Homo sapiens: one gene and its partner. The protein of the gene in region 1 interacts with the protein of each later gene in a pairwise test. Each region holds a gene or a part of one and is shown on either strand. Other genes may lie near its edges.

What was found. Proteins that work in one complex are often made in the same cells at the same time.
Region 2: the proteins of TXNDC11 (region 1) and ORC5 interact in a two-hybrid assay, tested with the Homo sapiens proteins (one large-scale study listed by BioGRID and IntAct).

What each region holds. Positions count from the first base shown.
Region 1 is NC_000016.10:11,686,686-11,691,739, forward strand, and holds part of TXNDC11 (thioredoxin domain-containing protein 11), read right to left. Parts: coding exon 4,605-5,054; intron 1,761-4,604; coding exon 1,618-1,760; intron 1,282-1,617; coding exon 1,172-1,281; intron 1-1,171. UniProt on the Homo sapiens protein: May act as a redox regulator involved in DUOX proteins folding. The interaction with DUOX1 and DUOX2 suggest that it belongs to a multiprotein complex constituting the thyroid H(2)O(2) generating system.
Region 2 is NC_000007.14:104,200,929-104,205,878, forward strand, and holds part of ORC5 (origin recognition complex subunit 5), read right to left. Parts: intron 3,307-4,950; coding exon 3,214-3,306; intron 31-3,213; coding exon 1-30. UniProt on the Homo sapiens protein: Component of the origin recognition complex (ORC) that binds origins of replication. DNA-binding is ATP-dependent. The specific DNA sequences that define origins of replication have not been identified yet.

The sequences.
Region 1 (5,054 bases):
TTATTAGGTTATAATTTCCCCACTTGTTTATTTACTCTCTCCTCTTAAAAGAAAAACCTGCTCACATCCTTTGTTCAGAATGGAATCGGTCTCAGCCATCTTCTAAACCATTTTAATTTCCGGGGAGGCTGGAGTATGAATGCCTGATTTAATCCTGGCCCCTCATTTGCAGCTTGAAACTCTGGGCAACTTGTCGAATCTTTCTATGTCTCAGTTTCCTCCTCAACACAAATAGCACTTTCTTTTTTTAACTAGAGTGCCTTCACTAAGCGTCGCAAGGACTCAGTCAGGTAATATGTATATCAAAAACTCTCCCAACATAGTAACTCCTCAGATTTGATTCTAATTATTACTTACAGTGCATATAACAGGTGACACAGAGACACTGGAAAATATATTAATGGTCCCCCTTTTTGTCTGCTTTCCCTGTTTTCACTGCACGTATTTCTAGTGGAATCTGTCCATTTTTCTCTCTTTATTTTTCCAACTGCTTCCACTTTGGAAAGTTTCCATCTCCCAGAGGAATCAGCAAATCCTATTTTTTGTTTTGATTTTTTTATATTTAACTCTTATCTATCTGTAGGGTTTTGGGGGAGGTGGGGGGTTAAATGTGAACAGTTTTCCTCACCCAAAACTGCTTACTACCCCATCTAAAGACTCTGTATTTGAGCCTTCTTTTCCCAAAAAATATTTTTAAAAATTTTGTTTACTCAAAAGCGCACATACAGTACCCATGGAATCACAATACCAGAATGTGGATATCTATTGGTCTTTCCTTTTAATTTCACAAATGAGATAAACCAGGGCTGGTGGAGAGATCTGCTTGGGATCCCAGGACCCACTGGCATTGCCTGGGGCAACTGTCCCATGGTATTCCACGGGGCCATCCTGGCAACCAGGTCAGTGCTCTCCCCACAGAACTGCACTCAGCCACCTACGAATCTAGTCAGGGCTAAACATCAACATCATGGAAGGAACACTCAGAATTCATGAGGAAAAGTTCAGTTTCAAAGAGGCTTTGCTCATGGCTTCAACCTGACAATTAAATTCAGCCAAGTCCTACCAAAGGTTAATGGAAAATGGGCAGACCCTCACACACCATATGGCTAAGCTGCAAATAAGAGTGAAAATGGGCATACAGCCCAAAGCGCTGCAGAAGAGGCCTGCTTACCTTGCCACAGTGAATGTGTCCATGGGCAGGTTCCGAGCTAGCTGGATGAAGATGTGATTGAGGGATGGACAGAAGCCGCACCACGGAGCGTAATAGAGCAGGAGAACGTCCTGTGGGAAAGGGAAGACAGATGTTACTTGCACCGGGAAATGGGCTCTTCTTCATTTCTTTCCTCATTGCTTAGAATCCAGCAAGCACCCGAAAAATGCTACCTATGCAAATATTACAGTGAAAATTTTCATCTTTAGGTCTTTCCAATACTGTGCTTTCTGGAGCACTTTTCTGAAATTTAAAAACCACATGTAATTCATTCACGGTCCATAATTGGGCCATCACGTGGTTACTCTTCTATACATCAAAAACAGCTGCTCACCCCAACAACTGTAGTTTGGAAATTATTTTAAGAGGGACAGATGGCTTAACTTTTGCCTCTCATGACTCCATACCTGTTTTTGAAGGACTACTTCCCAAAAGGTATCAGTTGTCACTTCAGTGATTAAATGCTGAGACGGGAACTGGGCAGAGCCACTTCCAATGAGATGCCTTTTCAAGGGACTATAGAGAACGCTGAAGTTTTGAATAAAAGACTCTAAAAATAAAGAGAAAATGAGATCAACTCTCCTCTAGATACAAAGAGAATAGCTGGCCTACTTTTAAACTCCACATTTTAAAAACTCAAATGACTTCATAGGCTCACATTTTTAACATTTCACCTATCAGCAAAACCCCAAACAAAGCTGCCCGGGTGGCATCAGGTTTAGCTCTGGTAGTATTAACTCAGCAGACAGTAATGTGGATAACAAAACACTATGCAATGTTAGATGCTCTAATATTCATAGACTATTCTTTTTTTAAAAGGACTGGTCCACAAATAGACACCAAGTGAGACTGTATAAATCATCAACAAGCCACCATCTTTTCAAGAAATTTCACCCTATAATACTAAGACCTTTAAGCTTAACCACAAATGTGACAACTGCACAAGCTACAGTAGTGTGGAATGTGTTTAAATGCTCATTAATTTGAGGACAAGGAGCTACAGTTTTTTGTTTCCTTTATTAAGGTTCTTTAAGTTTCTTTTTTTAAAGGTTAAGAAAAAATTATATGTAGTGGAAAAATACATAAAACCCATAATAATCAAAAACCTGATTTGAACCAACAGTTTTACCACAAATTCTGCCATCTTCAGAGTCCTTTGCTTCATCTGAAACAATACTAATTTGAATTTCACTTTTTTTTTTTTTTTTAAAGAGACAGGGTCTCACTCTGTTGCCCAGGCTGGAGTACAGTGCTGCAATCATAGCTCACTGTAGCCTTAAACTCCTGGGCTCAAGCGATCCTCCTACCTCAGCCTCCAGAGTAGCTGGGACTACAGGCGTCCACCATTGCACTCAGCTAAAGTTTCAGTTCTTTTTCTTTCTTCTAACTCCCTCCATTTTGAGGTGCAATGGGCAATGCAGCGTGCAGAATGGAAGAGGAAGTGAAGAATGTCATGTGAATACTAAAGAGAATTCATGATCAGCATCTGAGAAACACTTAGTTGGCTATGTTTTTGAAACATGAAACCAAGAATTATTTCCTAATCTGAATAAAGCCTAAATTCTGAAACTAGCCTAGAGACAGCTGATTTATGAGTTAAGTCTCTAAACCAACAATGACACACAGTAGGTGTTTTTTACAAGCTCCCTAAGAATTCTGTCACTAACTGCAGGACAAAGAACAGCTAGGCTAAACATTTCAGAGAAGATACAGAAGATGGAAAGAAATCTAAAGAAGGCTTCTTTCAATTACCCTTAAATTCAAAGTGAACACATTATGAGGTCATTAAACACTTGAGCATTACTGAATGGAATTCAGGAAAATCTAATACAGACTACCTCAAAAATACATGCTTGTAGGAACACTGACCCCATTTCTCTGGAGTCTCTTTCCCATTTAAAAAAAAAATGCTTGTTTCATTTTAAGAAAGCTCAACACATCAAAATGACTTTAGATAACATGAATTGGGAGTAATCTATAATATCGACAGATTTATGCCCTTCAAAAAGTGACTGGTCACAGGGTTCTTTTACACAGTGAGGAACTCTTGGATTTATAATATGTAACTTGATATAGAAAAATCAATATTTACATAAAGCCTTTTCACAAATGTGTCTAATGTAAGAAACAAGCTTCACCTAGATTTGAAAGAGGATGGCTAAAAAGACTCATATGTAGAAGCTCTGAGTCTACTGTTGAGTTCATACTTTAAAACTTGAAATGAAAGGTTTCCTTCCCTACCAAATTCCTCCTTTCTCCATTCGGCATACACTGACCCTCCCTCCCGTTTCCAATGAGGCTGAACTAACGTGGCTTTTGAATTCTCACTTCATTGTGTGTAGTCAAGGGCATCAGCAAATTCCTGGGAACAGGCCAGGGTGGGTCAGCCCAATGTTGCTGCCAAGTCCCAGGGGCAAGCTCTGGGTGCTTTCTCATCATGGAGCCTTACTCCTCAAAAAGTGGGTTTTGCTGGTTTGCGACTGACACTTATTTATTTGCACTTTACACTTGTTACAGTGTAGGTACCCCAGGTCCCAGCAATATTACTCAGTACATTATGAAACAGCAGCAGAACAAATTAGGTCTGGTGGCCTTGATCCTTAGACATTTAAGCCTATGAGACAAAAAGGGAGGCAAGGCGGCTCTACTTCCTTCTTCACTGCTCTCTTTTTTTGGAGACGGAGTCTTGCTCTGTCGCCCAGGCTGGAGTGCAGGGGCGCGATCTCTGCTCACTGCAAGCTCTGCCTCCCAGGTTCACGACATTCTCCTGCCTCAGCCTCCCGAGTAGCTGGGACTACAGGCGCCCGCCAACGCGCCCGGCTAATTTTTTTTTTTTTTGTATTTTTAGTAGAGACGGGGTTTCACCACATTAGCCAGGATAGTCTCGATCTCCTGACCTCGTGATCCACCCGCCTCGGCCTCCCAAAGTGCTGGGATTACAGGCGTGAGCCACTGCGCCCGGCCACTGCTTTCTCTTTAAGCTCCTTTAGAACAAAGCTGCTGTCAAGGCTCACTTTCATCAGCCCCTAGGACATCCCACCAGAATAGCTCTCCACCTCCCTGCCTGTTCTAGTCCCCAAGTCCCCACTGCCTGCAGCTGGTTCTACCTTAGACATGTGACAGAAATCGCCAATTTAGAAAGTGGGACTCTTACCCCCACCATGGGCTAAATGACAAACTTATCCAAAATTCAGAGTGAGGAAGTTTCTGTTCCATTTAATAGACAAAATTAGCTTCTTTGAAAATTATGACTGATGGTGGTCTAAAGACTTAAAATGAGCTACGAAGGTGACATCACCCCACAACTAAATGTAATGAGAGCCATCAATAAAATTTACCCATATGAAGTCAAGCAAAATGTACAATGCTTGGGGAAATAAACTGCCTGCAGTACCTAGGGTGAGCTTCATCAGTGCTTGCTTTGGATCCAAGATGTAATGAGATTCTTCTTTCACGTCAACAATTGCCGCAAATTCTTTCACCTGAGTGGAGCTCGGAGCACCCAGTCTCTCTGCATATAACCAAAACAAATTTGAATCCAAAAGGTAGATGTTGAGAGTCTTGTTGGTTCTGCAGCTCAGGCCTGTGAAGTTTGTGCTAGTCATGTCCACTTCTGGAAAGAGATACCTGTTCTCCTCAATGTGAGGAACGGAGCTTGGGGCATCAACCTCACATTTCTTCTCAAGGGAAGAAAATGCAACAGTAGGGGCTTCAAAGACACCTTGTTCAGAGTCGATGAAGCCTGACACACCCCTGCTTATGGTCCTGCAACATGCAGTGTAGTAGCTGAAGGGGCTATAGGAAGTTAAAAAATTGCTGCATTCTATGCTGTCTGATGCCACAT
Region 2 (4,950 bases), on another chromosome or scaffold:
TTCAACACAATTCACAAACACATGTGGGAGCTGAAAACGAAAACCAAAACACTGTAAGTAAAGAAGAAAACACACAAACACAATAATGGCTGTGCTGGATAGTCTCCATTTGCCTTTCTAAATCTATATCCCACCAAACCCACCCCATGCCCCAAGAGCCTGACAGCTACAGAATTACATCACCTGGACTCTCTTATTTTCTGTCTCTGGATGGAGAAGCCAATGGAAAGAACCAGCAGGAGACTAAGGGAGAATGGTGGGAGAGAAGTTTGGATATTGATTTCCTTGACTCCCACCATGACCCCTCAGTGGCCCTAGCTTGGCAGTGGATACTCTTCTACCAAAGATCAAGTTGGACAGCCCCTCTTCTAAGGCTACACCTCTTGTTTGGTTCCAATAACAGCTCCTTTCTATGGTCCCTTCAGGCCTGGAGGTGGTAAAGGCCCTGGTGTACCATCATCCCTTAGTGATTCCCATAAAATTTCCATTATAAAACTGTCCCTTCATTAAACTCACTTCAATTATTTCTTTCAGCTTGCCATTTCTTTCTTATGGAAATTCAAAGCAAATTTGTATTTTCCTATAAAGAATTCTTATAAAGAAATCAGCCAGGCATGGTGGATCATGTCTGTAATCCCAAGGCTTTGGGTCAGGAGTTCCAGACCAGCCTGGGCAACATAGCGAGACCCTGTCACTATTAAAAAAAAAAAAAAAAGAAAAGAAATCTAAGCATATTTGAATGTTAAAAATCTTAATAGGAATTTCACACTTATAACTTTAATATAATATCCTTGAATAAACGTTTACTAAGTCAAAAAAAAAAAGAATTTTAAGAGTTAGAAACCATAGCAATCCTCCTACGAGGACTGTAAGCACTAGCTCTTTGCTAGGCATATGGCTCCTGCCTGTAATCCCAGTGCTTTAGGATGGGTGGGAGGATCATTTGACCCCTGGAGTTCAAGATCAGCCTGGGAAACACAGTGAGACTCTGTCTTTAAAAAAGTAAAAAAAATTAGACAGGCCTGGTGGTGCACATCTATAGTCCCAGCTACTTGGGAGGCTGAGGTGGAAGTATCACTTGAGCCCAGGAATTCATGGCTGCAATGAGCTATGATCATAACACTGCACTCCAACCTGGGCAATAGAGCAAGACCCCATTTAAAAACAAAACAAAACAAAAAAAACTAGCCCTTCATTTAAAAAACTATCAAAATATCAACATGAGTTAACTCCAGAAGTAATAAGGTCACAAACGAGACTTGCTCACCAATACAGTCTATCCTCAAAATAAGATCACAAAAGCAGATTCATTCTGAGGAAGATAACTTGTGGCACTTGGCACAAATAATGGAACTGGTAACTATTTTTAGTGATTTTATAAACTTTATCCAATAAGGAGGCTTTTCTTTCTCTGAATAACAGTGTCACTAAAGCCACATTAAACTTACTTGGGGACAGTTTCACCAGCATTTGCTAACTCACTTCTCTCTCACTCCTTTACTGTCCTTTAAGAACAAAAGTCCACAACATCTCTGTTATGAATAGTGTCTTGCTTACGGCATTTGTACCATCCATGACTTTTAAAGGCAGCATATTCTAAGTGCCTGTCTGAGTCCCTGTATCAGAAGTAGTAACAATAATCATATATTACACTGATTAAGTAACAGCAGAAACTACAGTGTGATAAAAAATGGAATACAGTCCTTAAATATGAAACTTCCTTACTGGGTTTTATTGCTTTTATTCAACATATATTTTGGGGGCACTTCATTCAGGGGGTTCTGAAATGCAAATGCCTGGACCAAGACCTTGTACACTCAGATTCTGAAGTCCAGTATATAGCCCAGGCATATGTGTTTTTTAAAATGCACAGCTGATCTTTGAGATCAAAAGCTGAAATCTACAACTTAATAAGCTGAAATCCACAAGTTAATACGTGCCAAGTAATGTGCTTGGTGCTGGGGATAATTTCAAGAAACTCACAATCTAAAGCCAGGGAAACATAAACACAAAATCATAGCTGAGAAGGCTAAATATTATGACAGAATTAAGCACAGGGTGCTAAGGTTGCAAAACAGGGGGGCATCTGATACAGCCTAGAGGATCAGGAAAGACCTTGTAGAGTATAAGTAGAAGAAAACCTGGCAAAATAAATAAGCATTTGCCAAGCAACAGGAAGAGCGAGTACAGGAAAGCCATTCCAAGTAGGGGAGCAACATGTGCCATGGCTTGAAAGTAAGACAGCAGGAACTGTACACAGTTCAGTATGCTATCCTAAACGTGCATCCTCAGTGCTAGAGGAGGACGGGGTTAGCAAGCCAAAGCCTGTGGGCTAGCCACCTGTTTTTGTACATACTGTTGCTTTGAAACACAGTCATGCCCATTCACATAGAGAATGCCCATGGCTGCTTTCACAATACAGTAGAGTCAAGCAGGTGAGACAGAAACTACGTGGTCCACAAGCACAAAATGTTAGTTATCCGGCCCTTAAGAAAAAGACTGCCCATCTCTGGTTTAGGATATGAAAGGGAGTATGGCAATACTCATCAATAATAGCAGCTAACCTTTATTGAGTGCTTACTACGCACTATGTACTGCAGAAAGCACTTTCCATGTGCTAACATTTAATTCTCTTAATCCCAAATGTTGTCACTATGAGCCAACTTTGCAGATGGAGAAAGCACTAACTGGTGAATCCAAAAAGGAACATGAGTCTGCCAGACTCCACAGCCCAAACTCTTAACCACTGTGTTATGAAAGATAAATTCAGCTCATGAAAGGTCTTATACAATGGGCGAATTACTTGAACACTGTCCTGAAAATATTAAGATTTGCATGGCCTAGCTGCTGGGTGAAGATTGCAAATAAGAGGCTTACAGAAATACATGGAAAAAAAACAATGGTAAATGAAAATCCTAGCAGCAATGGCTAGGATTAAAGGTAGATGGAGACATGATTTTAACAATGTGAAGCAACAGACTAAGTTTATTGATGTGATTTACTAAATGAGGGAAGATGAGGAAAGAGTTAAGAAAGTGCAAGTTTGGACAACTGTGTCAATGACAGTAGACCATTCATGGAGAAAGATAATATGGGAAGGAGAGTAATGTAAAGGTGGTATGTTCAATTTTGCATTTGTGGAGATTCACAATTATCAGTACCAATATTATACACTAAAAATGGCAAAGAAATATTTAATATTTTTATTCTTACCTCTAAAGTTTTCAACAACGTTTGTGTTACATAGGTCTTTCCACTAGCAGTATGTCCATAAATAAAAATGGATGGAAAGCTGAAATGATGTCTCTAACGAGAGAAAAGACAAATATGAGGCTGCACATACAAAATAGAAAATAAACACTTATCAACTTGTGAGAAAGTTGTACGTGGAAAAGTGAAATATTCAATCCAAATTCCTAACAATGAGCATATTGTGGATGCATCAACACACTTTGAACCTACTTGAATTCAACTCTAAGCACTTTCTTTGTTATGAAATTAAAATGTATGTAACATATTTGGCATATTTTATTATGTACTATATATTTATATTTTTATTATCGTACAGGTTTACATATACAAACTAGTATTTTCAACTTCATAGCAGATTTAAGAGATTTTTCAAGGATAATTTTGTTCATACTCCATTTTTATATTACTCCTTCTTAAAGACTCTTATCTCCTGCGATGCCACAACTTCACTATACATTTTAATGCTATGAAATAAAGTACATATAATCAAAAGATTAAAAGGAATTTCAAGGGTCCTCATTCTTAGGAAAACTTATAGACTACTTCTGAACTATGCATACTCACTGATGCTGGCATAAATGCATACATTAGATCACATAAAACACTAATAAAATCTGCATAGCATTTATTTTAAAATACATATGTGCAAGATCCTCTTGCAGTACATTAGGTTAGCAGCTTAGAGAAAAGTAAATATTGTCAAAGGTCTCTCTGGTCTAGTTAATACTACAAATACTTGTACTTCATTCCTTAAATGAACGCTTTCATTAGATACCTACTAAATGCTGAAAACCATGAGGTACTGAAGAGAACAAATAACAGTAAAAGACATTATCTACTTTGGAGGAAATTATAGTCTACATTTTTAAAATAATTACGGGAAAACTTGATTTTTTAATAATACTCTTTTTTTTTTTTTTTTTTTTTGAGATGGAGTCTCACCCTGTCACCCAGGCTGGAGTGCAATGGCGTGACCTCGGCTCACTTCAACCTCTGCCTCCCGGGTTTAAGCGATTCTCCTGCCTCAGCCTCCTGAGTAGCTGGGATTACAGGTGTGTGCCACCACACCCAGCTAATTTTTGTATTTTTAGTTAAGACGGAGTTTCACCATGTTGGTCAGGCTGGTCTCAAACTCCTGACCTTGTGATCTGCCTGCCTCAGCCTCCCAAAGTGCTGGGATTACAGGTGTGAGCCACTGTGCCTGGCCTATTTTTTAATAATACATTTTTTTAAATAATTACAAGAAAATGGGATTATGCAATTTCTATCAGAAAGTTAAGTCTCTATTAATTATCATCGATTACAGCAACAGTCACAAACATTTATTACATTCAAGTCACTAAGTTAAACATTTCCTTTTACAAGACAAATCAGGAACTCAGATTTACGCAGGAAAAAGACTTTCTAAATGGCATACAGCTATGGCAAAAGCAGCTCAACTGCTAAAAATAGACTAAAAATTTACTTGAAATGAATAGGTAATGTAATACATGAATCTTTTTCTGAAGTTTATATGTAACAATCATAAATTAACTGGCCCAAAAATTCTGTCTCAGCAGGATGCAGTGGCTCAAGCCTGTCATCCCAACACTTTGGGAGGCCAAGGCAGGCAGATCACTTGAGTTCAGGAGTTCGCCTGGGAAATACAGTGAAACCCCATCTCTACAAAAAACACAAAAATAGCCAGGCTTGGAGGCA